Homo sapiens: one gene and its partners. The protein of the gene in region 1 purifies or fractionates together with the protein of each later gene. This does not show direct contact. Each region holds a gene or a part of one and is shown in the gene's direction. Other genes may lie near its edges. The genes, in order: ZNF133, MRS2, TRIM24 and SAV1.

The links.
Region 2: the proteins of ZNF133 (region 1) and MRS2 purify together in Homo sapiens (affinity purification with mass spectrometry; 2 studies listed by BioGRID and IntAct, with this or other methods). This does not show direct contact.
Region 3: the proteins of ZNF133 (region 1) and TRIM24 purify together in Homo sapiens (affinity purification with mass spectrometry; 2 studies listed by BioGRID and IntAct, with this or other methods). This does not show direct contact.
Region 4: the proteins of ZNF133 (region 1) and SAV1 purify together in Homo sapiens (affinity purification with mass spectrometry; 2 studies listed by BioGRID and IntAct, with this or other methods). This does not show direct contact.

The regions. Positions count from the first base shown.
Region 1 is NC_000020.11:18,305,505-18,312,532, forward strand, and holds part of ZNF133 (zinc finger protein 133), read left to right. Parts: intron 1-163; exon of another isoform or gene 164-176; coding exon of another isoform or gene 177-182; coding exon 183-303; intron 304-766; exon of another isoform or gene 767-793; coding exon 794-889; intron 890-1,201; coding exon of another isoform or gene 1,202-1,312; intron 1,313-4,664; exon of another isoform or gene 4,665-4,774; coding exon of another isoform or gene 4,775-4,802; intron 4,803-5,856; exon of another isoform or gene 5,857-7,028. UniProt on the Homo sapiens protein: May be involved in transcriptional regulation as a repressor.
Region 2 is NC_000006.12:24,412,926-24,419,953, forward strand, and holds part of MRS2 (magnesium transporter MRS2 homolog, mitochondrial isoform b precursor), read left to right. Parts: intron 1-2,090; exon of another isoform or gene 2,091-2,107; coding exon 2,108-2,238; intron 2,239-3,471; coding exon 3,472-3,588; intron 3,589-5,158; coding exon 5,159-5,311; intron 5,312-5,535; coding exon 5,536-5,653; intron 5,654-7,028. UniProt on the Homo sapiens protein: Magnesium transporter that mediates the influx of magnesium into the mitochondrial matrix and regulates magnesium metabolism. Also permeable to calcium, sodium and potassium ions.
Region 3 is NC_000007.14:138,463,240-138,470,267, forward strand, and holds part of TRIM24 (transcription intermediary factor 1-alpha), read left to right. Parts: intron 1-7,028. UniProt on the Homo sapiens protein: Transcriptional coactivator that interacts with numerous nuclear receptors and coactivators and modulates the transcription of target genes.
Region 4 is NC_000014.9:50,644,300-50,651,327, reverse strand, and holds part of SAV1 (protein salvador homolog 1), read left to right. Parts: intron 1-1,938; coding exon of another isoform or gene 1,939-2,021; intron 2,022-6,313; coding exon 6,314-6,584; intron 6,585-7,028. UniProt on the Homo sapiens protein: Regulator of STK3/MST2 and STK4/MST1 in the Hippo signaling pathway which plays a pivotal role in organ size control and tumor suppression by restricting proliferation and promoting apoptosis.

The DNA.
Region 1 (7,028 bases):
CAAATGCCACTGGCTGGATTGAGACAGGGATTTAAAAGTCTTGGAACACATGGCACCAGGGTCACTGGGATCTTGATATCTCACCTGCCTCCCCCAGGGCAGCCTTATCCCTGCCCCTCACCCTGCCATGGGCAAGGCTGGCTTCTGAGTGAGCAGGGCTCAGTTTTGTGTTACAGGCACACATGGCATTCAGGGATGTGGCTGTGGATTTCACCCAGGATGAGTGGAGGCTGCTGAGCCCTGCTCAAAGGACTCTGTACAGAGAGGTGATGCTGGAGAACTACAGCAACCTGGTCTCACTGGGTAAGCCTGATATCTGTTAGGATTCCCATTCTTATTGCTGGGAATTTTAGGCTATGCTTGAAGCAGCCATCTTGCTTTGTTACTTGACCTTTGGGTTGGACCAAAAAGCAACTACATTTTATTCGTGTTTCCCCAGGGAGGGTCTGATTTTGCAGAGTGGAAAATGGGTAGATTTGTTGTGTGTGTGCATATGTGTATTGTGTGTGCTACTCTGCATTTCTAGGCCTTTTTTCTCAGGCTGGGGTTCTCATCCTATGTTAACTTGTTTTAAATGAGAGGGGTGTTCATCTACTCGGCATGGAATAGAATCAGTGTACTCTCATCTGAGTTCACTGCCCACTCATCCCTTCCATTTCTGAGAGCCCCACTCACCTCTTCCAACTCAGGGCTTTGTACTACCTTTGAAGTTTCCTAGGCTGTTTAGCTTTGAATTCTTGAATGGGCTCTTGAGCCCATAACCTAGTTACTTATTTTCTTTTCCTGTGAGCAGGAATTTCATTTTCTAAACCAGAACTCATCACCCAGCTGGAGCAAGGGAAAGAGACCTGGAGAGAGGAAAAAAAATGTTCACCGGCAACCTGTCCAGGTGAGTGGGAAAACACTGGACAAATGAGACATGAGCTCAGCAGCTCAGAGGACTGGGGGAGAGGAGGCGTTGCTCAGGTGCTGGGGAGGGAAGCTGTTCCCCTGACCTCCTGGGCTGCTGTTTAGATTGCCTGACACGGCCTCCCTTCCAGATCTCCATCTTCATTCGAGTATGGACGGGGCTTTCCTGGTGTCTCGTCTCCTTCCTCCACTAGGAAGCCTTTTTTCCTCCCAGTGGGTTTCTCCTCTCTAGCTCACTCAGTTCTCTTTCATATATATGGGCTTCTTTCTCTTGTTACTGTTTTTTAAAAAGATCATCAAGAATATGGAAACAACTGTGACCTACAGAAAGAAGGCAAGCCCAGTGGGAGGAAGAAATCTAAAAAGCCAATAGAGAAATTGAAATGGAATTCTAAAAAAAACTGTGAGCTATTCAAGAATGGCTTTTACATTTTATAATGTTATATAAATATCTATATAATATCCTTAATTTTGCCTCTTAACCATCAAAGCCTGAACTATTTACTATCTTTAAGAAAAAGTTTGCTGGCCCATGCTCTAAGGGAGTACAATACATAGCCTTAACTTTTTATATTCTATTAATACTTAATCTGGGTAAAATATAAAATGTAAGAGCATTGCAATTACACAGTTCCAATCACCCCCCCTCCCAACATCCTTTGTACTATAATTGTCATTTGTATTATACACTCCTTATTACAATGTTAAAATGTTTGTTTTAAATGTTCATCTGGATTTGTTTTCTACAATGTATTTTTTTAATTAAGAGAAAAAATAGTCTTTAACTTATCCAGATAATTTATCATTTTCTGTTCTTTTTGTTTGTTTGAAAATCCGAGTTTACCTTTGGTATTATTTTTCTTGAACCTTAAGGACTTCATTTGGCATTTCTTATGGTACAGGTGGCAGTGTATTCTCTATTGCTTCTGAAAGTGTCTTTATTTTACCTTCATTCTTGAAGTGTATCTTCGCTCGATGTAGAATTCTACATTGGTTATTTTTTCAGCACGTTAAAGATAGCATTCCATTGTTCTGCCTGCCATTGTTTCTGATGGAGAAGTCACCATGAACATAATTTAGCTTTATTTCCTTTGGCTACTTTTCTCCATACTTTTGGTATTCAGCAGTTTCACTGTGATGTGACTGCCTTAAGTACATTCTTCCTTTACATGTTTTTATCTGCCTGAATCTCTCTGTCCCCTTTTGGGACTATAGGCACATGTATATTAGTCCTTTTTATATAATCCCACAGGTTATAGATCCTTTCCATATTTTTAAATCTTTTTTTTCTCTCTGTTCTTTAGACTGGATGATTTCTGTTGGTCTGTCTTCAAGTTTACTGTCTCATTTGTCATTTCCAATGTGCTAAGCTCTGGCCAGTGAATCCTTCATTTCACTTATTTTTCAGTTCTGCAATTTCCATTCACTTTTACTACACTTTTCTTTGTGGTGAGATTTCCTATCTGTTCACTAATTATAATTAAATTTTACTTTATCTTCTTTAAATCAGACACTAAGTGGATAACTTATTAAGTGAAAAAGTTATAGGATTTTGTATACTATGCAGTTGAGTTTGTTGTTAAACAAAGAGAAGTGTATGAAAGAGTATATATCCATATGTTTATGTGAACATAGAAGTCTGTTGTTATTTACCATTACTAGTGGTTACCTCTGTGGGGATAGAATTGGGGAGGGTTGGACAAGGGGCTGCTGAGAATTTTTCATCCTACTTTGCATTATTTTTAAATGACAGACACATAGATAACTTTAAGAAATTATATATGTGCTTTAATTTTTAAAATTCTTTTGACAGTTTTATAAATGTTTGCACAGAAGTATATATTTTCTTTTTCTGGGTAAGAAATTTTCTCCTCTTGTTTTTATTAAATTGATTAATTCTGTCTTCAAATTGAGGGACCATAGCATACATAATATAAATTGTCGCTGTTTTTCAACTTGCTTGTATCCTTACTGTTCATCTGTTAGAAGGAATCCTAAAGCTCTCCACAGTCGTAATTTATATCAACTTCTCCATTTATTTCTAAGTTTTTGTGTTATATTTCACTTTATTGTTCTATTAGGTATAGAAAGGTTCAGGATATTTTTATCTTACTCATTAATGAAGTTTTTAATGCTGAAATTCTCTTAGTTCCATGAGCTATTGTTTCCTTTAACTTCCTCTTTATTTCTTTTTAGTCTTAGCACTGTACTTTCTGGTGCATCTTTTTGGTATTTTATTGTTCATCCTTTTATTTTAAAATAAAAACATTGTCATTTGGGTGTTTTGCTTTTAAGCAGCAGCATGTAGCTGGTGTTGCATTTGCTGTCAAACCAAGTGGTGTTAACTTTTAATAGTGACTTTACTTAATAACAGATAAATTTCATGAGACTTGCTCAGGGGTTGACTGAGGCAGATGAGTAGGTGTTTTACTACAGCAATAGGAAAGAAGGAAGGTCAGGGCAAAGGAAGTAAAGCATCTGTATTAGTCACCTTGGGCCGCCATGACAAAATACTGTGGACTAGCTGGCTTAAACAACAGAAATTCATTTAGTTATAGTTCTGGAAGCCAGAAGTTCAAGATCAAGTTGTCAGCAGGTTTGGTTGCTCTGAGTCCTCACTCCTGAACTTACAGATGGCCACCTTCCCCCTGTGTCTTCACATGGCCCTTTCTCAATGCTCACACATCTTTGTCGTCTCTTCCTCTTCTTAAAAGGACACCAGCCCCATTGGATTAGGGCCCACCCTTACGACCTTATTTAACCTTAATTACCTCTTTAAAGGCCCTGTCTCCAAATACAGTCACATTAGGGATTACAGCTTCAACATAAGAATTTGGGGGAAACACAACTCAGTCCATAACAGCATCCTTGTGAGAGCACCATAGTGATTTCATAGACTCTCCGCCGAATATATAGTTCCATAAAAGGTCAGTTGGATATGTAAGTCCATTGGATCTCAGTTGTATGAAGGAGTAAAGATGAGGGACTGGTGTATAAGCTGAAAGGTCATGGATTGGAGCCCCAAATAAGGTCAGGAACCAATGTGCCCATGGTGCTTGAGCAAAGTGAGTCAGAAGGTAGAAGAAAAGGCTGTGTCAGAGAAGGGAATGTGCACAGGAGAGAATGTGAAGATTGTGCAGTGTCTGTGAACAGCATTCACAGTGCAGGTGAGGTCAGTGTTGCTGAGAAGTTGGAGTCTTAGCCAGAGGCTCAGCCCTGTGGAGCACCCTGAGAGTGCTGACAGGTATTGGTGTGGAGAGGATGTGAGGCTGGTAGGTGATCAAATATTCAGGGCAGTGTGTGAAACCAGGAGACCTGTGGATGGTCCTAAAAAAAGTATGGTAGGTAATGGTGTGGAAGCCACATTACAAAACAAGGACATTCATCCCACTGTGTAATGCTTGAGATATGAAAGGAAGAAGCTGTCTATCTACTTGAGGGAATCTTACAAAAATCTTCCTCTCAAGGAACAAGAGAGGTGTCTAGCCAAGGACATGGAAGGAATGTTGGACAGAGAAGGAGAGGATGTAGGGGCATTATCTGACCTGTGTGTTCATTCTAGAATTGGCAGGTGGAGGCTGGGAAAATGCTATACACCCTGACCTTTGTACATTTACACAAATATGTGTTTTCTCAACCTGAAAAGTATAGAATTATCAAAACATTTATATTAATAACAAGCAGCTTACCTATCATTGTCTTAAAGCGAAACCTATCTTTTTTGTCTCGTTTTTAATCCTTGTTTTAATTTAAAGAAAAACAGCAGCTCTTACAATGATGTTGAGCACATTAAAAAGAATGCTGTACAATCCAAGGAGCAAGTCATTGTGGTTGCCCAGGAAGCTGTCTTGGAAACCCAAAATATATGTGTAACGGGAGGAAGACTGTTCTAGGTATAAAATACATCTTAACGGTTTCATTATTCTATATTTGGGACTTGGATTTAAGACAGGCAATATCAGAATCCTCAAAATAGGCTAGTTACAAGAAAAGTATTTAATTTTCTCGGCTGTTTCATTAATCAGAATGCTAATTCAATAAATGTAACGGAATCATTTGCAACAACATGGATGAACCTGGAGGATGTTATGTTAAGTGAAATGAGCCAGTCACAGAAAGACAAATACCACACAATCTTACTTATATGTGCAGTCTAAAAAGGTTGGACTCATAGAGAAAGAGAATACAATGGTGGTTACTAGGGGATGGGGGTGGTTGGGGAAGATGTTGGTCAAAGGATTTTCACATAGAAAGAATAAGTTCAAGAGATCTATTGTATAACATGATGACTACAGTTAATAACAATATATTGTATTCTTGAAAATCACTAAGAGTAGATTTTGGGTGTTCTCATCACAAAAAATGATAGGTATGTGAGGTGATGCAATATGTTAATTAGCTCAATTTAGCCATGTCACAATGTATATATATTTCAAAATGTACACAATGAATATATACATTTTTTGTCAATTTAAAAATTAATTAGTTTTTTAAAAGTAACAGGAGTTACCATAATTATGAAGAATTATATGCCCTCCTGAAGTGACTAATCCTTGTTATTTATATTGACTAAGAAGCCTGGTAAGAGGTAACACAGAAGCCTAAGAATGAGAACTAAAGCCAGGTGCTGTGGCTTGCACCTGTATTCCTAGCTACTCAGGAGGCTGAGACCAAGGCAGGAGGATCACTTGAGGCCAGGAGTTCAAGACCAGCCTGGGCAACATAGCGAGACTCTGTCTCTAAAAAAATTTTTATAATTAGCCAGGGTGAGGTGTTGTGTGCCTGTAGTCCCAGCTACTTAGGAAGCTGAGGAGGGAGGATTGCTCGAGCCCAGGAATTTGGGCTACGTGATCTATGATTGTACCACTGCACTTCAGCCTGGGCCACAGAGTGAGATCCTATCTGTAAGAAATTTAAAAAATAAAGAATGAGAAATTGGATATCTGGTGAGGTAAAAATAGAGCTTTTATTTCTAAGTTGAGTATACAAAAGACAAAAATTAGTTATTTTTCATATGGAGGACAGAAATACACCAAGTTATAATTCTTTTTTAGTTACCAGTATTATTGTCAAGTTTAAGCTTTTTTCTGTTTATTGGCAAGCTAAATAATTGTACATGTTTTTAAGCATATATAGTGTTGATGGACGGTATTTAAAGTTTTAAGTTTCAGTCTCAAATAATTAACATAAGGCTGATCTCATTAGTTTAGGCAAAAATACAAGTAAAATTATTGCATGAGAACACTTTGTATAGTTTTGTTTTTGAATTTTTTAACAAAAATATTTATTCTTATAATGATTTCCTAACAGAGATCTTAGAAATTGAAAAACAACTTAATCAGTCTTAAGTTAAAAACTGCCTGAAAAATATGCCATTTCTGGTATTTACTTTGAGTAAAGTAATTGTAGATTCACGTAATTTCTGGCACTGTCTGTAAATTATAAGATACTAGTTGGACACATATATCTACATGTGCCTAATCTTACATATTTATGAAGGCAATATTAGCCTATCTGATTTTTAAAATCAGTATAGGTTGACTCTCCCTTATCCAAAATGCTTAGGACCATAAGTGTTTCAGATTTTGGGTTTGTTTGGTTGGTTGGTTGGTTGGTTTGCATTTTGGAATATTACCATAAACATAATGAGATATCTTGGGTATAGGACCCTAGTCTAAACAGGAATTTCATTTATGTTTTGTGTACACCTTGTACACTTGGCCTGAAGGTAATTATATTTTTCCTTTGAGGATGCTGAATAAACTGAATTTTATGTGCCTGTGTTTTGACTATGACCTGTCACATGAGATCAGCTGTGGAATTTTCTACTTGTGGCTGCATGTTGGTGCTTAAAGATTTTCAGATTTTGGAACTTTGCAGATTAGGGATGCTGAACCTATATATTAGTCTTGGAAGTTTAGATTAGTTAAACTTTCTTTGAGAAAGCCTACATATCAGAACCAAGTTTTATATCACTAGAATATTATGCTAATGTTATGTTTACACTGATAAAATAAGGGAAAAGACATTGCATTTGTCTTATTTGCAGGCTTTATCTTACTTTGAAATATTGATTCCACCCTTTAGTTACATACCAGCTAGTAAGGTTGTTTACATAT
Region 2 (7,028 bases), on another chromosome or scaffold:
TGGGAGCATACTAACCAGAGTGGGAGGAGGAGAGAGGGTAGAGAGGACATGAGGTGCATTGGGTTGGGTGAACCTGGCACACTTTTCTTTTGTCTGCCTTGCTCTGAAAGAATAGATGGCTACACTTCCTGCTTGGGGTAATTAATGAGCACCAGCTAGCACCAGCCAGTGAGATGATAAGTAGTGGGAGCCCAGTTACCAAGCAGGGGGAAAGCAGAAGAGAGAAAGAAGATGTAAACAGTGGTAAGTCATGGGCTCCACAGGCTGGGTAAGCTCTCAGGAGCTCATGCTGTTAGGAGAAAGACAGGGATCTTAAAGGGAGCAGGAGGGGAAGGAGAGAGGCTAGGCTGGCATGGGTCTCCGGCCTAGAGATTGGCTGTGGGGAGAATAGAGAGGGAGTTCAGGATGTCTGCTGGGATACACATTCTTCTTCCTTTAAATGGGGTCCCAGGAAGATTTCCTTACGAAACAACACTACATAGAAGCAAGACCAGCCACCTCTCAAAAGGGATAAGTTTTCGAACAAGGGAAAGCTCCCCAAACCCACCTAAGGGACCAAGACATACCATGAGTAGATATGCCTCACAAATACCCTATCTGTGACCCTCAGCAGCCTCCCCAACCACTACAAAAGTCCACACCTTGCTGAGCAGAGGGTTTGATATCTCTTAGATTAAAAGATGTGGTCTGCCTATTTGGCTGTCCAGTCTTCCCTCCCACCCAAGGACTTCTTAACCCGGAAGCAGTTCCTCTGGAGACGAAATAAACAACATGTCTGCAGAGGCACTGTGACTCTGGACTTGTTTCCAAATAAAAAAATCTGTTTCACAGTAATTGTGCTTCTGAGATAAAGACTATATGCTGTAATTTACGTCATCAGTTTTACCGCTTGATTTAGTTAGTATATGCTATTTGCCAACTGGCATGGAAGTGTTTCAGTATTTTAACAACTATATAGCAGGATTAGTGCATACCTGCCGAATATCAAATATCAAACCATACTTGTGTTAACCTAAATAGTCTATTTTTGACTTTACTCTGATATGTTTATGTTTTAAAGCTCAAGTTTTTATTTTCAAAGAGCTTTGTAGGAATTTTGAACCATATTCTGTTTACAGAGAACACAGGTATTACTGAAAGCTTGTGTTTTAATAATAGCAGATTTTATTTTACTTGATCCCTCATTACTTCATAATGAATGTCTATAGGAGAAAGACTTTTTTTTTTAAATTTTTTTAGTATTTATTGATCATTCTTGGGTGTTTCTCGGAGAGGGGGATTTGGCAGGGTCATAGGACAATAGTGGAGGGAAGGTCAGCAGATAAACATGTGAACAAGGGTCTCTGGTTTTCCTAGGAAGAGGACCCTGCCGCCTTCCGCAGTGTTTGTGTCCCTGGGTACTTGAGATTAGGGAGTGGTGATGACTCTTAACGAGCATGCTGCCTTCAAGCATCTGTTTAACAAAGCACATCTTGCACCGCCCTTAATCCATTTAACCCTGAGTGGACACAGCACATGTTTCAGAGAGCACAGGGTTGGGGGTAAGGTTATAGATTAACAGCATCCCAAGGCAGAAGAATTTTTCTTAGTACAGAACAAAATGGAGTCTCCTATGTCTACTTCTTTCTACACAGACACAGTAACAATCTGATCTCTCTTTCTTTTCTCCACATTTCCCCCTTTTCTATTCGACAAAACCGCCATCATCATCGTGGCCCGTTCTCAATGAGCTGTTGGGTACACCTCCCAGACGGGGTGGCGGCTGGGCAGAGGGGCTCATCACTTCCCAGACGGGGCGGCCGGGCAGAGGTGCCCCTCACCTCCCGGACGGGGCGGCTGGCCGGGCGGGAGGAGAAAGACTCTTACGAGAGTTAGCTCCTTGTCAACCAAATCTGTGCCTAAAGATAACATCATACATAGTTCTTTGAACCCAGAGGATCTAGTTTTTGAATCATCTGGAATAGGCATTCTAGAATTATCTATGTTCTGAAATGTTACCAGCATTTCAAGCTACTACAGATTTCTGTATTTAATCAGAGGATTCACTGATCCTGAATATTCTAAAAAGATTGTTTTAATTCTTATGAAAGGTCATGTTGTTATCTAGATCAACACCCTTCAGGGGAAACTTAGCATTTTGCAGCCACTGATCCTTGAGACCTTGGATGCTTTGGTGGACCCCAAACATTCTTCTGTAGACAGAAGCAAACTGCACATTTTACTACAGAATGGCAAAAGGTAAATATGGATGATGTATCACATTGGGAGTTGGAGACAAATATCTTAAAATCAATTATTAACATTTTGTTTCATAACTTTTTTTAAAGTATGAAAGTAGCCTAGGTGGGAAGTTGAGCTAAAAGGGGCACACAATCTACTGTTTGTTGAAAAGATACTTTGCATGAAATGTCATGTAAGGCTCTTTTCCGTATGTGATCTCATCTCATCACCCATTCAATAGTTGATATTGTCTTCATTTTGAAGATGAGAAAATTGAGGTTTGAGTAACTTGCCTAAATTTATATGGCTAGTAAATGGCAGATCTAAATCCAAATTCAAAGTCCATGTTGTTCTTTTTCTTTAAAATCATAATGCATTCCAGAATTTAATAACAATATTATATATGTATCATAAATAGAATAAACATGCTCTCAGGAGTTATACTCCCGAAATCCCTTCAAGAATTAACATTTAAAATTCCTGAATCAGTAGTTTCTTATCCAAAAATGTTGGAGTGTTTTTATCAGTTAAGAGTAACTAGTCTGTTCTATATTATCACTGCCATGTTGATTAATAAAATTCCCAAACCAAAAATCTTAAATTCACAAGCGATTTATGTTTCTGAGATAAGTAATGTATGATGAAATTTATATCACTGATAATTTTACCAATTAATTTAGATCTGGTTTGGGTTTTTTGTGGGTGTTTTTGAGACAGGGTTTCACTCCGTTGCCCAGGCTGGAGTGCAGTGGTGCAGTCTCAGCTCACTGCAGCCTTGGTTTGGGTTTTTTGTGGGTGTTTTTGAGACGGGGTTTCACTCCGTTGCCCAGGCTGGAGTGCAGTGGTGCAGTCTCAGCTCACTGCAGCCTTAACCTTCAGCAATCCTCCCACCTCCACCACCCAAGTAGCTGGGACTGCAGGCACATGCCACCATGCCCAGCTAATTTTCTAAATTTTTTTGTAGAGACAAGATCTCACTGTTGTCCAGGAGGGTCTCAAACTCCTGAGCTCAAGCAATCCTCCTGCCTTGGCCTCCTAAAGTGCTAGGATTACAGGCGTGACACCATGCCTGGCCAAATTGATTCTTAATTTGCCTGGTAAATACTCAACTTTTTTTTTTTTTTTAAATAAGTCATTGTTTAGCATGAATGTATAAGATAATATATTTGATAAGATACTCTAAAAACACTATTATGAAATGTTCTTATAAGTTTATTCTATTGATCATTTTTGTGTATCTATTTCTTATAGTCTATCAGAGTTAGAAACAGATATTAAAATTTTCAAAGAGTCAATTTTGGAGATCTTGGATGAGGAAGAGTTGCTAGAAGAGCTCTGTGTATCAAAATGGAGTGACCCACAAGTCTTGTAAGTATATAATTATACTTTGTTATTTATTTCCTTAGAGTAAATCTTTTGCCTTTTCCACTTCAAGGTGATTTTTCATACAGAATGTAACATTTTTCTGGACTACAGAATATAGAGATTTTTCATCCCCAGTTTCCCTTTTTTCCTGTGCAGTATCGTATCTAATTCAATGTAATTCTATGAGTATGCATACTGCATACCCAACACTGCTGACATGTGGTGAATATAAACACACAGTTACCTTTATATTCAAGGGACTGACCACCAGATTGGCATATACATCTACCAAAATAACTTACCTAGGAAGCAGAGTGGGAGAGAAATTTACATGGGGGAGGGAAAAGATGGGGTAAATACACGAGTAACACATTAACATGGATTATGTAAGTTCAGTCTAATGAAAATGTTAATCTTATAAACCTTTTATCTTTTATGAATTTAGAAATTGTTTATGCTTCTTGTGCACACTCCAGCTAAATGTTTACTTTTAAATACCCAAATATTTTGTTATTGTCTTTCTAGAGCAGTATCAGAAATTAATACACCTTTGTAATGAGTTTAGTTTCCACAGTCTGTACAGATTTTCTTACAGCACTTTGAAAAATTGGTTATTTATATCCTGATAAGGAAATAATAAGATAAAGGGGGCTATATAACATTTGGTAGATAGCCGATAGGTATGGTAGCAGAAACTGTTTGCTTTGCTTAGGCCAATCTGTCAATCTGTCTCTAATATGCTTTATGATACAGGTACCTCTTCAGAGTACTTCATTCCCCCTTACCCTTCTTGGTAGGGTAGGGGAGCAAAGTTATTACTGATATCATTCAAAAACATTTTCTTTATATGAAATCACATTATGTACACACCTCAAAAGGAAATGGTCTTGACATTTTTAGTTGTGGATTTTGTTTTACCTGATAGTGGTATTGGCTTTGCACTAATTCATCTGCATTCACATATCTGGATTTTCCTGTAACTGGCAGCATGTATCTGCATAAAAATCTCTTGGATTGGGGCCATGTAATACAGTGACACCAACTGGTCTACATAAGGATGGAACCTCTGTCCTCAACTCATCTGTAAAGTGTTTTGGATCAGTTGACATAGGTACTCACAGATTGGCCACAACAATAGAAAAGACAAAGGCAGCCAGGCGCTGTGGCTCATGCCTGTAATCCCAGCACTTTGGGAAGCCGAGGCAGGCAGATCACAAGGTCAGGAGTTCGAGACCAGCCTGTCCAATATGGTGAAACCCCATCTCTACTAAAAATACAAAAATTAGCTGGGCGTGGTGGCGGGCACCTGTAGTCCCAGCTACTGGGGAGGCTGAAGCAGGAGAACAGCTTGAACCTGGGAGGCAGAGGTTGCAGTGAGCCGAGATCGCGCCACTACACTCCAGCCTGGGAGCAGAGTGAAACTCCATCTCAAAAAAAAAAAAAGACAAGACAAGACAAAGGCTAGCTTTTCCACTGGTAGCTGAATGCTATATACTAATTTAGGAAGTTTTTGTCACTAAGTATATGATACACATGTTGGGAGTATGTTAATTATTTTCTCTTTTAATTGAAGTGAAAAGAGCAGTGCTGGGATTGACCATGCAGAAGAGATGGAGTTGCTGTTGGAAAACTACTACCGATTGGCTGACGATCTCTCCAATGCAGCTCGTGAGCTTAGGGTGCTGATTGATGATTCACAAAGTATTATTTTCATTAATCTGGACAGGTAAGAAAGCATTATATAAAACTAAGTTTTTTTAATAAAATAATTATAAGAAAGTTTTTAAGGAAATATTTTGTGAGGAATTACGCCATCATTATCATCTATACTACATTATTATTATTTTTTTTGTTGTGTAGGTTTCATCCATGTGGTCTGTATAGATTTGATGAATGTGCTGTATATAGTTAGTGGGCCCTTCTAATCTGAATAGGTGTTCTCCTCTCCAGCCACCGAAACGTGATGATGAGGTTGAATCTACAGCTGACCATGGGAACCTTCTCTCTTTCGCTCTTTGGACTAATGGGAGTTGCTTTTGGAATGAATTTGGAATCTTCCCTTGAAGAGGTGAGAATGTATTATTATTTCTAAAACTTGGGGGTTTTGGCCGGGCATGGTGGCTCATGTCAGTAATCCTAGCACTTTAGGAGGCTGAGGCAGGTGGATCACCTGAGGTCAGGAGTTTGAGACCAACCTGGCCAACATGGCGAAACCCTGTCTCTACTAAAAATACAAAAATTAGACAGGCACGGTGGCAGGCACCTGTAATCCCAGCTACTTGGGAGGCTGAGGCAGGAGAATCACTTGAACCCGGGAGGCGGAGGTTGCAGTGAGCTGAGATCGCGCCGTTGCACTCCAGCCTGGGAGACAGAGTGAGACTCTGTCTCCAAAAAAAAAGATTGGGTTTTGAAGATCGATATTTTTAATGGATTTAAAAAATAAAGGCTGGGCACCTTGGCTCAACGCCTGTAATCCCAGCACTTTGGGAGGCTGAGGCAGGTAGATCACGAGGTCAGGAGATCGAGGCCATCCTGGCTAACCCGGTGAAACCCTGTCTCTACTAAAAATACAAAAAATTAGCCGGGCGTGGTGGCAGACGCCTGTAGTCCCAGCTACTCCGGAGGCTGAGGCAGGAGAATGGCATGAACCTGGGAGGCGGAGCTTGCAGTGAGCCAGGATCACACCACTGCACTCCAGCCTGGGCGACAGGACAGAGTGAGACTCTGTCTCAAAAAATAAATAAATAAAAAGTCTAACCTGTAAACTACCATGGTGAAATAAAATATATAATGTAACTCACAATTCAGGCAGTACTGTTGGACCATGTTATAACCTAGATAAATACAGCCTAGGTTACTTTGTTTCCCAAAACATATAATTACAGATGGGAAAGGTGTGATAAAACAGTGTCTCTGTGAAGCAGTGTTAATGAAGAGTTTTTATTTTTTAATTCTTACATGTCTGGCAACGTACCAGGCGGTTTGCATACTTTATTTGGCTCAATCATTGCAACTCTGAAAATAGATATATTATCCCTACTTTGTAGATGAGAAGACTGAGGCTCAGAACATTTAACTTGCCCACAGGCATAGAGCTGGAAAAATAACAGAATTAGGACATGACCCCAAAGACTTGCACTTTCTACTGCTCTGTTGCCTTTCTGTATTAAGATAATACTTAACTCCCAGAGTTTTTCATTTCACTGTGGTTTTGTACAGTCATCCCTCAGTATCCAAGAAGAATTGGTTACAGGATCCCCACAGATACCAAAGTCTGTGGGTATTCAAGTCTCTGATATAAAATGACCCAGTACAGTCAACCTTGCATATCTGCAGATACAGAACCCACTGACTGTGTTTTCACAGAATAGCTTATTGTAAGTTTTCTAGAACTGAACCTGGATGTGCATCTGGCACAGTGTGATGCTGGATTCTGTGTCCTC
Region 3 (7,028 bases), on another chromosome or scaffold:
CCTTCTTTCCTGCGTTCTTACCTTCCTACCTTCTTACCTTCCTACCTCGCTTTGTCGTTCAGGCTGGAGTGCAGTGGCACAATCTCAGCTCACTGCAACCTCTGCCTCCCTGGTTCAAGCGATTCTTGTGCCTCAGCTGGGCGCCACACCTGGCTAATTTGTGTTTTGTTTTAGTAGAGACGGAGTTTTGCCATGTTGGCCAGGCTGGTCTCGAACTTCTGACCTCAGGTGATCCACCTGCCACAGCCTCTGTAGGTGCTGGGATTACAGGTGTGAGCCACCCCACCCGTCCTCTTCCATTTATATTTTAAATGGTTAAACAGGCTTGTAGCCAATTAAGATCTGAATTGTGCATGATTATAGAATTATGACATATTGTTTGCCTGGCCATGACATATGGACTTGAATTAATGAGAACATGGGTCGTAAAGTTATCATCCTCAATTCTGAGACAAGTTTGTGATTCCATACTTCTCAAAATGTTCTGTGTAATTACAATCTGAATATTTTTTATCTTTATGCTGTATTGTACGCAAGAGTTCAAAGAAAGCGTTTAAATTGGAAGATGTTTTTGTTTTTATACTAGGAAAAACGTTTTAACAAATTGTACTTAAAAGTACACCTAAAAAGAATTAAAGTTATCTTTAAAAAATTAAAAATGCTATCCTGAGTCTTAGTGACTTGGGTATTTTGTCCCTTTATCTCTCCTTGCATACTTATTTTAATACTAGCTGAAGCAAAAATTTAGACTTTTTTTTTTTTTTTTTTTTTTTGAGACGGAGTCTCGCTCTGTCGCCCGGGCTGGAGTGCAGTGGTGCGATCTCGGCTCACTGCTAGCTCTGCCTCCCGGGTTCAGGCCATTCTCCTGCCTCAGCCTCCTGAGTAGCTGGGACTACAGGAACATGCCACCACGCCCGGCTAATTTTTTTATATTTTTTAGTAGAGACGGGGTTTCACCGTGTTAGCCAGGATGGTCTCGATCTCCTGACCTTGTGATCCGCCTGCCTTGGCCCCCAGAAGTGCTGGGATTACAGGTGTGAGCCACCGCAGCCAGCCAAATTTAGACATTGCTTAACTAAATAACGGGTTCATTTGATCAAACCAGTTCTTCATTTTCCTACTGAATTTGTGAGTACAGGCATCACAAGTCAAGTAATATCTATTACACAAAGGTTAAATAGGTAGTTGGGATGGAGAACTGTGTGAGCCTTGGGGTAAAATGGTAGGAAATGATGGGGAGTACAAGCAGGGGGGCAGACTCTTCTTAGCTATAGCAATTTGTCATGTGAGTGCAGGGCAAGTATTGAAGGATCTTTTATTTATTTAATGCAAATTCTGAATCTGGATTTTTGAACAAAATTTTTCTAGTATTAGATATTGTCAACTAATTAAAAATGTGTGAATATTTATACACATAAATATATATACACACACACAATTAATTTATGGGCCCATGCTATAGGCCAAACAATAGGTTTGTTGAGGCCAAATATGTTATATTTCATACACTTTTTAGATTTCAAAAACTGGAGATTTTCAAACTTTAACACCACTAAACTTTAACACCTAAAAAAAATTTAGATTTTTAGGCCCCTCCCTCCTGAAAATCTGATTCTACCTAATCTGGCGTAGTTGCAGAATGCTAGGGTATAATACAGTTACACTCTAGAATTGTTTCTTTAATGCAAGCAGTATTCTAAAACTGTTTCAGATCTAGTTTCCCTTTCTATAAAATACTTTTCATGCTCTCTTTGTCATCCTAAATGAATTTCATGGGGAAAAAAAATCCTAACACATTTTTCTTACAAAAGTAAACATAATGTTTGAACTGTTTTAAAGGAGAAATAAAATGAAGCAAATAACAGCAGAAAAGTATAATTTATAAATGCTCAGATACAATTACACTGGCCACCAAGCTCCCATTGAGAACATTTGTTTTAAAACTTCGGTTTAACTGTCCTTTTTTCTCAGGCTACATGTTGGAAGGAATGAGGGTGAATGACCACAAGTTAAAATTGGATGACTCCTTCAGTCTTGACTGTCATTTTCTTAGTATGCAGTTATATCTAGGAGAGAGGCAAAACTTTAGGAAATGGATTTTCTTTTACGTATGTTAAGAAAACAAACTGATCTTAGAGAAATGTTATAATATTGTGTAGTATTTTGTGTTGTTAACGTACTGTTCAGCTAATGAGTAGCAAACTGGGAGTTTGAGAGCAGTTTTTTCCTCTCTACCTAAAAGACAATATTGAAGAGCTATTTTTAACAAATACTGAGAACATACTTTTGAAAGGTATTATTTGTCTAGAGAGGGTTAAAATATAAGACTAAATCCCTTTTCCAAGATTTCTTTACTAACTGGCAGTATACAAGATACGTAACTATTCTGGGACTGATTTCTTGGCAAAAAGTATAAATCATCTCATGAGTGCAATCTTTAATGGCAAAGGATTAATATTTAAGAATGATCTGTGTTACCTGTCAGTCCTATATATATAAAAATATACATATTTTTATTCACCTGTTAGTAGGTATCAGTATTTTTTAGTTTGGAGCTATTATGAATAAAACTTAAAGGTATTTGTAGAAAAGTCTTGGTGTGGATACATTGTCATTTCCCTGAGGAAATAACTTAGAATTGGAATTTCTTGTTTTTATGATAAATGTATGTTTACACTGCTTGTACTACTTTATAGACCCTCCAGCAGTTCTCTCCAAAGTTTGTTCACACTCTCCCCAGTTTTGGGTATTGTCTTTAAAAGTTTTTTTTGTTTTTGTTTTTGAGACGGAGTCTCACTCTGTCGCCCAGGCTGGAGTGCAGTGGTGCCATCTTGGCTCACTGCAACCTCCACCTCCAGGGTTCAGGCGATTCTCCTGCCTCAGCCTCCCAAGCAGCTGGGATTACACTACACCTGGCTAATTTTTTTGTATTTTTAGTAGAGACAGGGTTTCACCATGTTGGCCAGGCTGGTCTTGAACTCTTGACCTCAGGTGATCCACCCGCCTCGGCCTCCCGAAGTGCTGGGATTACAGGCGTGAGCCACTGTGCCTGGCCTGTCAGTCTGTTAAATTTTAACCATTCTAGTAGGTGAGAAAAGCTATCTCATGGTTTTGGTTTTCATTTCTCTGATGAATAATGATGAGCATCTTTTCTTGTGCTTAGTAGTCATTCTTTTTTGGTGAGATTTTGGTTTGTCTTTTGCAAATTTCAAAACTTAAGTTGCTTTTTTTTTTTTTTTTTTGGAGACAGCATCTCACTGTGTTGCCCATACTGGAGTGCAGTGGCGCCATCTCAGCCCACTGCAACCTCCGCCATGTTGCTCAGGCTGGTCTCTCAACTCCTGAGCTCAAGTGATCACCCATCTCGTCTCCCAAAGTGCTGGGATTATGGGCGTGAGCCACCACGCCTGGCTGGGAGTTTGCCTTTTTATTGAAACGTAAAGTTCTTTATATATATTCTATATCTAGGTCCTTTGTCAGATACATGTATTGCAGGTATTGACTCTGGCTTGCATGCTCATTTTCTTGGTGTCTTTTGAAGAGCTAAAGGTTTAAATTTTGATTAAGTCTGGTTTATCAATTTATTTTATGGTTAATGACTTTTGTGTCCTATCTAACAATTTTTTGCCTACCCCAAGTTTACTAAGATTTTCTCCACTTTTTAACCCAGCATTTTTATAGTTTTAGCTTTAAAATATAAACCTGTAATCCATTTTGTGAGTTATTTTTTGTGTGAGGTTGAGGTTCATTTTTTTAAAAACTGTATGTTAAAACACCATTTATTAAAGACAGTACTTTTTCATTATATTATTTTGGCATTTTTATACAAAAATCAGCCATCTGTGTGTGGTCTGTTCTTTATTGATTTGTCCATTCAGCTAATACATAATGTTTTTTGATTACAGTACTCTTCTCAGCAAATTTTGAAATTTGACAGTTTGTTCTTTTTCAAAATTCTTATGATTCTTTGAAGTCATTTGCATTTCTTTACATTTTAGAATCAGCTTTTCAGTTTCTACACAAAAGTCTGTCATGGTTTTGATTGGAATTACATTGAATCTAGATATCAATTTGGGTAAGGGGGAATGTGTTTTGTTTTGTTTTGTTTTGTTTTGTTTTTTTGAGATGAGTCTTGCTCTGTTACCAGGCTGGAGTGCAGTAATGTGATCTCTGCTCACTGCAACCTCCGCCTCCCAGGTTCAAGTGATTCTCCTGCCTCAGCCTCCTGAGTAGCTGGGACTATAGGCATGCGCCACTACGCCCAGCTGATTTTTGTATTTTTTAGTAGAGACGGGGTTTCACCATGTTGGCCAGGATGGTCTCGATCTCTTGACCTGGTGATCTGCCCGCCTCGGCCTCCCAAAGTGCTGATATTGACAGGCGTGAGCCACTGCACCCAGCCATAATGTTCTTAACAATATTGGTTCTTCCAATCTGTGAATATGTGTTATCTCTTAAATTCTCGGCACTGTCTTGTGGTTTTCATTGTAGCATTCTTGTACAATTTTTGTTTACATAGTATAAATATTAAACATTTTATAATGTTAAATGATATCGTATATGATATTTTTAAAATTTTCATTTCAAACTGTTGGTAGTATATTGAAATACGATTATTGGTTTCATCCCATTATCTTGCTAAATTCGATTATTAAGTATCTTTTTTTTTTGTTTCAAGGACTCCTTAGGATTTTCTATGTAGTCTACAGGGAGATAGCTTTACTTCTTGCTTTCTATTCTTAATAATTTATGTCTTCTTATTGCACCAGCAAGGACTCCAATACAATATTGACTAGAAGTTGAATTTCAGTATTAAATGAGAAAGGATTTCCTTACCTTATTCCTCATCTTAGGAGGAAAACACTCAATTTTTCACCATTAATATGTTAGCTGTTTTCTATAGATGCCCATTATCAAAATGAAGAAGTTCCCTTCTATTTTTAATATGCTGAGAATTTTTATTATGAATGGGTGATGAATTTTGCCATGTACTTTTCCTGTGTCTATTGAAATGGTCATGCAATTTGTCTCCTTTTTTTGTTAATGTATGAATTACGTTGATTTTTAGATGTTAAATCAATCTTGCATTCTTGAGATATACCTCACTTGGTTTTGCTACAGGTATTTTGAAGCTTTTATGAATTGCCTGCCCTTTTTTAAGGTGAAATGTTCTTTGCTTCCTATAATGCTATGTTATGGTCTACTTTGCCTGATATTAATGCCATTGTTTTTTTAATCTATGTGTTTGAATGGTATATTTTTCCCATGCTTTTACTTCTAGCTTTTTAAAGTATCTCGTAGATAGCGTATAGTTGTCTTACTTTTTTATCCCAGCTTTTAATTTTTGCTTTTGTTTAATCCATTTATATTTTATGTAATTGTTGGTATGGCAAGGTTTAAGACTGACATCTTTTTATTTGTTTTCTCTTTGTTCCTGCTTGGCCTCCAGTATCTTTGCTTCTCTCTCAATCCCTTAGCAGCTGCTCTCTGGTAAACTTCCCATGGACTTGCTCTGCACATGCGTAGTAGCCTTCAGCCAAGGACTTGGCAAAACCCTTACATAGACTACTGGCACCCTTTCTCTGTTCAGCTCCCTTCTCCCAAGTGCTTTGCCCTATATATTCCATCTGGTTCACAATCCCCGAATCTCTCTGGCTCCTTTGCTATGTTCTGCATTGGCTGTAGCTCCATGAACCATGATCACAAAATAGTCCTCAGTTAGGGAATCAAGATTTAGGGGGCTTATTCACCTGAGCTTTTCTTTCCTCATGGATCACAGTACTGCATTGCCTTTTGTCCATTGTCTGAAAAGTTGCCTAAGGTATCTGTCCTGGTAATATACAGTAATTAATGACAGGAAAGCTTGTCTCAGTACTAGTTACTCTATTCCTGGTGGAAAACTGATGTCAGAAGAATGCTTTTTAATTTCATTGTACCTTTTTAAATATACCCAAATGTGGGTAATTTGTAAACTTTCATTTTTAGGTCTCTAGATTTCTCTGTTTAATTTTTCTTCAAGAAGTTAAACTATCAACTAGATGCACAAGTTTTTCAAATTTCTTTCTGCAATGTAACCTTGACCCCTTTCTCAATTTTTTTTTTTTTTTTTGAGACAGTGTCTCGTGCAGTGGCCATCTTGGCTCACTGCAACCTCCACCTCCCCGGTTCAAACAATTCTCCTGCGTCAGCCTCCCAAGTAGCTGAGATTACAGGCACACACCACCACACCTTGCTAATTTTTTTGTATTTTTAGTACAGACGGGATTTTACCCTGTTGGCCTTGAACTGCTGACCTCAGGTAATCCACCTGCCTCAGCCTCCCAAAGTGCTGGGATTACAGGTGTGAGCTGCCGAGCCCTTTCTTAATTTTACTCCAGCATTTTGAATACACACTTAGACCAGTAGTCTCCAAAATGGCATGACTAAGTGCCATTATATTTTATTCTGTAATGTGGTGTGGCACACCACATATGCAATAAAATATCCATTCAGGTGAGGGAAGACATTAGAACTTCTTTTCAGAAATTGAGCTTTAAAGTACTTGATATATAGTTTGTCACAGTCACATGAATAAGCATGTCAAATGGCTACATTTCACATATGCTGTATGGAGTATCCTGAGAGAAGGGATTAAGGCTGCCTCAAGCCCAAATGGTATTTGTGTGAGTTAGAAATTAAGAGTCCTCTTGACATACAGGACCAAAGGATGTGTGCCTTAGGAAGTGGAATGTGGACCCCCATTTGCCTGTAAGTCTACATTTCCCCTCCAGTCAGGCAGTTCCTTGTACTGTATAACCTATCTTAACTGTACACAGCTGCCCTAGAGGTCATGGGATTTCGATACTGCAGACTCTGTTGTTTGTTTTTGCCTCCTACAAGTATAATTTTTTTTTTTTTTTTTTTTTTTTTTGAGATGGAGTCTCTCTCTGTCACCAGGCTGGAGTGCAGTGGTGTGATCTTGGCTCACTGCAACCTCTGCCTCCTGGGTTCAGGCGATCCTCCTGCCTCAGCCTCCCAAGTAGCTGGGA
Region 4 (7,028 bases), on another chromosome or scaffold:
CTTTATGAAAATAGATACAAATTACATATATATGTAAAATATGTATTCATATTATTCTCTTTCATATGTATTGTGTTAGGTTTCTGTAGCTGTAAAACACATTACTTCCAAACTCATTGGCATAAAACAATAAACATTTATTATCTCAGTTTCTGTGGTTCAGGATTTTGGAAGCGGCTTAGCCAGGTCATTCTGACTCAGGATCTCTCATGAAGTTGGAGTTCACACACGTCAGCTGGGGCTGCAGTTATCCGAAGCTTCGCTCTGGCTGAAAGATCCATTTCTTTCTTTCTTTTTTTTTTTTTGGAGACAGAGTCTCTCTCTGTTGCTCAGGCTTGAGTGCAGTGGCGCGCTCTCGGCTCACTGCATCCTCCATCTCCCAGGTTCAAGTGTTCTCCTGCCTCAGCCTCCTGAGTAGCTGGGACTACAGGCATGTGCCGCCACGCCCAGCTAATTATTTGTAATTTTAGTAGAGATAGGGTTTTGTCGTCTTGGCCCGGCTGGTCTCAAACTTCTGACATCAGGTGGTCCATCCACCTTGGCCTCCCAAAGTGCTGGGATTACAGGTGTGAGCCACTGCGCCCGGCCAAAAGATCCGCTTCTAAGTTCACTCACAAGGCTGTTAACAGGAGGCTTCAGTTCTGGCTGAAGGCCTCAATTCCTCACTCATGGGCTTCTCATGATATGGTATCTGGTTTCCCCCAGGGTGAGTGATGAGAGAGCAAGTACACTTGACCAAGGCAGAAGCTGCACGGTCTTTTATATCCTAATCTCAGAAGTCACACACCATCCTTTCTGCCATAAACTATTGGTCACACAGACAAGGGTGTGAATCCCAGGAGGACAGGGATAATTGGGGCCCAGGTTCACCTTACTGGCTGGCTACTACATATATGTATATATGGTGGTGTACTGTCCAGACTCTTTTTTCACATAATACATCCCGAATATTATTCCAGGGCAATAAATAGAAATCATCTTCATTCATGTTTACAGCTATATAATATAGTACTCTGTTCTGTGCGTGTAATAGTGTAATCATCCAGTTTGCTATTATTGGACATTTGGTTGATTTCTAGCCTTTTGCAACTATAGATGTTGCTGCAGTGACTAGCCTTATGCATATGCATTGTATGTTGTATTTAAATAAAAACAGTTTCTTAAACCACATGCCAATAACCCGTATTTATCCATACACTTACATATCCTTCTTTAGAATCTGAGTTTGAATTGAAGCATTTACCTTAATTTTAAAGTTTCTTCTAAATTACCTTTTGTCACTGGGGTCTGTTTCATTTGCCTTTCTTTAAAGGTAAACTTGATGTTTTCATTTTGCCTTAGTTTCCAGCCAACTGTAATTTTAAAAGCTCTTCAAAGTCAGCTGGGAACTTTTGACTAGTAGATGTTTTGCTCTGGCATGGTACTCCTTCACACCTCAATGGTCACCCAGTCTTTCTTATTTTGACCATTCTGAGATATTCTAAATTTGGCAGTTAGGGCCTTGGGTTGACTGGCAGTCTTCTGTTAACACACTAACTTTTCATTTAAATGCTGTATCCTTGTACCTTTCAGGCACAGGGATTCAAATTTATGTTAAAATTTTGTCTGGGGTGCAACTGTTACAAATAATGAGGATTAATAATAGTATGAACCACATACTGTCTTCCTAGGACTGTGTTAGAACATGCACCAGCAATGATAATACATCTGTATTTGCTGCCTAGTGGCTAACAGATTTACTCTCTTGATTATAAAAAACACCTTCGTTTCAGAACTAGTAAAATATGGGAGTGAAAGAGGCAAAATAAGTCCAAAAATCAAGGAAAATATTTATGCAGTTTCTGTCTCATTGATGTGTGTATCTCCTCCACTAATACTACACTGTCTTTATTACTGCAGCTTATTTATTTAACACTTACTATGTGCTTTATTCTGTAGACACTGTTCTAGAGACTGGAGATGTATCTGTGAACAAAACAAAGATTCCTGTCCTAAGAATCTTCTTTGTGGGATTCTTGTAGGTAAATAAACAAACTAAAATTACATAAGTTAAAAGGTTAAAGTGCTTTTTAAAAAAGTAAAACGGTAAGTAGAAGCTCAGCAGATGTAGACTGCCATAGTAAGAATAAGCTTCATTGAAACATTTGAGAAGAGGCTTGAAGAGGGTGAGAGTGAGCCAAGAGAATATCTGAAGGAAGAATCTTCTAGGGAGAATAAACAGCCAGTACCTGCCGTGTTTGAGAACAGCATCCAGGAGGTGAGTGTAGCTGGAACAGAGTGAGCTAAGGGTAAAAAAAATAGCAGCTTAAGTCAGAGAAGAAATGGAGGTCTGATCATCAGTAGGGCTTCATATTGAAAGTTATACAAGAGATAACTTTCATCAAGTAATGAGACAGTAAAGATAACTTGTACCAAATATCAAGGAAAAAACTTACTGAGCTCAGCCAGTATCACCAACCTGTGGTGAACCAAATAAATACTTCTTGTTTTAAGCCACTGAGTTTCGGGGTGATTTGTTATACATATGCTATTAGTATTCTTTTTTTTTTTGAGACGGAGTCTTGCTCCGTCGCCCAGGCTGGAGTGCAGTGGCGCAATCTCGGCTCACTGCAACCTCCGCCTCCCGGGTTCACGCCATTCTCCTGTCTCAGCCTCCCAAGTAGCTGGGACTACAGGCGCCCGCCACCACGCCCAGCTAATTTTTGTATTTTTAGTAGAGATGGGGTTTCACCGTGTTAGCCAGGATGGTCTCGATCTCCTGACCTCATGATCTGCCCGCCTCGGCCTCCCAAAGTGCTGGGATTACAGGCATGAGCCACCGCACCCGGCCAACTATTAGTATTCTTGTGTGAGAATAAAATTATGCAGCCAGATTATTCTTTTAAAAAGTATAGTAAATTTAACTTTTTTCAAGTTACACAGTTCTGAGTATTAACATATGTATAGATTTCATGTAATGCCTGTGTAATGAGAATACAGAACATTTCAAACACCCTCTAAAATTCCCTTAGGTTGTCCTCTTATAGTCAACTCCTGTCCCTCACCTCCAGTTCCTAGCAATCACTGTTTTCTGTCCTAGTAGTTTTGTGTTTGGAAGAATCTCATAAAAATGGAACTGTACAATTTGTAGCCACTTGAGACTGGCTGCTTTCCCTCAGCATGATACTTCTGAGATTCATCTTTGAGATTCTTGCATGTACCAATAATTAGTTCCATTTTATTCCTGAGTAGATTTCACTGTACAGTTGCACCACAGTTTGTTTATCCATTCTGTTAAAGGACATGTGTGTCATTTCCACTTTGGGGCAAATATGAATACAGTCATTGTAAATATCCACAAATGGGATTTTGTGTGAAGATGACTTCTCATTTCTCTAGGGTAAATATTTGGGAATGGGATTGCTGTAGCATATGAAAAGCATATGTTTAACTTTATAAGAAATTGCTAAGCTGTTCTCCAGAGTGACTGTAGCATTTTGCATCCACACCAGCAGTGTATGGGCATTCCAATTGTTCTGTATCCATGTAAGCACTTGCATTGTCAGGTTTTGTTTGGTTTTTTGGCCATTTTCATAGACGTGTATTGTCATTTCATTATGGTTTTAATTTGCATTTCTCTCACGGCTAATTATGATCCTGAGCATTTTTTCACGTGCTATTTACCATCAATATGTTGTCTTCGGTGAAGTGCCTGTTAAAAATTCTTACCCCCCTTTTTTTTAACTGGGTCGTTTTGTTTTCTTCTTCTGTTTTTGTTTTGAGAGAAGGGGTTTCACTCTGTTGCACAGACCGGAGTGCCGTAGCTGTTCACAGGCATGATGATAGTGTGCTACAGACCTGAAATCTTGGGCTCAAGTAACCCTCCTACTCAGCTTCCTGAGTAGGTTGAACTACAGGTGCGTGTCACTGCAGCAGGCTCAGGGTTGTTTTCTTAATGTTGAGTTTTGAGAATTCTTTGTATATTCTAGGTCAGAGTTCTTTGGCTAATAATGTGATTTGCAAACATTTTCTCCCTGTTTACAGCTTGATTTTCTTTCTCTTAGTGTCCTTCACAAGCGTTTTTAATCTTGACAGAGTTCAATTTAATCAGTATTTTTTCTTTATGAGTTGAACTTTCAGCATCATGGTAAAAAAAAGTACTCTTTGTCTAAACTAAACTCATGAAAATTTATTCTATTTTTTTCTTGTAAAAGCGTTATAGTTTTAAATTTAGATATATGATCTATTTTTAGTTAATTTGTATGTAAGGTGGCAGGTATAGGTTGTGATTAGGTTTTTTGCATATGGATGTCCAGTTGTTGCAACATCATTTGTTGGAAAAACCTTTCCCCGCTATTGCCCTTTCACCTTTATAAAAAAATCAGTTGACCATGTCTGTGTGGGTGTTCTTCTGGATTCTCTGTTTGGTTCCATTTATCTATTTGTCTGTTCTTCTGACAATACCATACTGTCTTGATTAATGTAGCTTTATAGTAAGCCTTAAAAATCAGGTAGTGTGAGTCCTTCAACTTTATCCCTTTTTCAAAAAAATTGTTTTGGCTACTCTAGTTCTCTTTTGCCTTTCAGTATACATTTTAAAATCTGTTTAATAACTATCTGTATCTACAAAAACTCCATGGAATTTTTTTTTTTTTTTTTTTTTGAGACAGAGTTTCACTCTCGTCGCCCAGGATGGAGTGTAATGGCGCGTTCTCAGCTCACTGCAACCTCTGCTCTCGGGTTCAAGCAATTCTCCTGCCTCAGCCTCCCGAGTAGCTGGGATTACAGGCGTCCGCCACCACGCCCGGCTAATTTTTGTGTTTTTAATAGAGACGGGGTTTCACCATGTTGGTCAGGCTGGTCTCAAACTCCGGACCTCAGGTGATCCGCTCACCTTGGCCTCCCAAAGTGCTCGGATTACAGGCGTGAGCCACTGCGCTCGGCCGGAATTTTTATTGGAATGACAGTAGTCTCGCTTTATCCATGGTTTTGCTTTCCACAGTTTCAGTTACCTCTGCAACTGCAGTCTGAAAATTGATGAATATGGTACAAGATCTTTCAAGAGAGAGGGAGAGAGATTACATTCACCCAGTTTTTATTATAATAATTGTTCAATTTTATTTTTGTTAATCCCTTACTGTGCCTAATTTATAAGTTAAACTTCATCATAGATACGTATGTATAGGAAAATACACAGCATACACAGGGTTAGGTACTATCTGCAGTTTCAGGCATCTACGGGAGGTCTTGGAATGGATCCCCCATGGATAAGGGGGGGACTCCTATAAAGATAAAGATAATTTCAGGAGAATTGACATCTTAACTTTATGTCGAATCTTCCAATCCGTTAATGTGATAGGTTTTTTATTTCTTTCATCAGTGTTTTGTAGTTTTTAGCATATTGGTCCTGCACAATTCTTTGGAGCTATTATAAATTATATTATCTCAATAACTTTTGTTTCCAGTTGTTGTTTGTTAATATATAAATATTAATTTTTGTATGGTGACCTTAACCCTGCTACCTTAAGCTTACTTAATAATTCTAGGGCACAGCCAGATTACTTTTAAGAATTTATAACCGGGAATGGTTTTACAAGTTCATTTTTACATTTTTTTTAAAGCTGAAATGTCAAATCTTTAATCAGGGGAAATTTTCTTTTTCCCACTTTTCTTTTGGCAGTATACATACTTAAGTAGCTTTACTGCCACAGGTTGATTATCCCTTACCCCAAAATGCTTAGGACCAGAAGTGTTTGAGATTTTGGATTTTTTTTTTTATTTTGGAATATTTGTATGTACATAATAAGATATCTTGGGAAGAGATCCCAAATCTGAACATGAAATTCATTTATATTTCATATATACCTTCTACACATAGCCTGAAGGTAATTTTACATAATATTTTAAATAATTTTGTGCATAAAACAAAGTTTTGACTGAATTTTGACTATGACTCATCACATAAGGTCAGGTGTGGAATTTTCTGCTTGTGGCAACATGTCAGCTCTCGAAGTTTTGGATTTTGGAGCATTTCAAATTTCAGATTTTTGGATTAGGGATGCTCAACCTGTTGTTAAGTGTTTGTATGGCCTGTTGATGGAAGCATCAGCCAAAAAACCCTCTACTAATTTCAAAGTCTAGTTCCTCCCCCTTTTTATAATTCCTTAATAGTAATACCGACTAGTTTTATGAAAACCATCATAATGGGCATAATCATGAATTTAAATAGAAGAGTACAATCAGGATAGTTAATGTTGTGACTTTGCTAGCTGGCACATTTTTTGCATTGAATAATTGTTCTGTTTCTTCTCTATCATTTTCTCTTTCCCCGTAGGTATTGGGAGAGTTGCTGCTACATCTTTAGGAAATTTGACTAACCATGGTTCTGAAGATTTACCCCTTCCTCCTGGCTGGTCTGTGGACTGGACAATGAGAGGGAGAAAATATTATATAGATCATAACACAAATACAACTCACTGGAGCCATCCTCTTGAGCGAGAAGGACTTCCTCCTGGATGGGAACGAGTTGAGTCATCCGAATTTGGAACCTATTATGTAGATCACACAAATAAGAAGGCCCAATACAGGCATCCCTGTGCTCCTAGGTACAGTATCAACTTTATTTTCAACTTTTTGTTTCGGGATTGTCTAATGTTAGGTTTTGAACTGATATTTTCATCTAAGAGAATAGCATCCTAAAGCTTGAGATTTGAAAGCCTTATATTTCAAAATTTACATTTTTCTCTGGACATACATTTAGTAATAAATGACTTTAATAAGTTAAAAAAATACTTTTCTCTTTAAAAAAACCTCAAAAACAAGATCATTGTTCTTATGATCAGATTCTGCTGTAGTAATGCCAGAATGTTTTTGTTATAGGTGTCCAGAAAATTAAATAATTAAAGCTTCTGCCTTCTTACACTTAAATTTTTACAAATAATAACAGACCTACCCCCTAAGTCAGAATGTACAATTGAATTATAACATTTTGCTGTTTATTCTATTTCAGACATGATTGTATGTTCTGTTTCTTGCTATTACTAGACAAG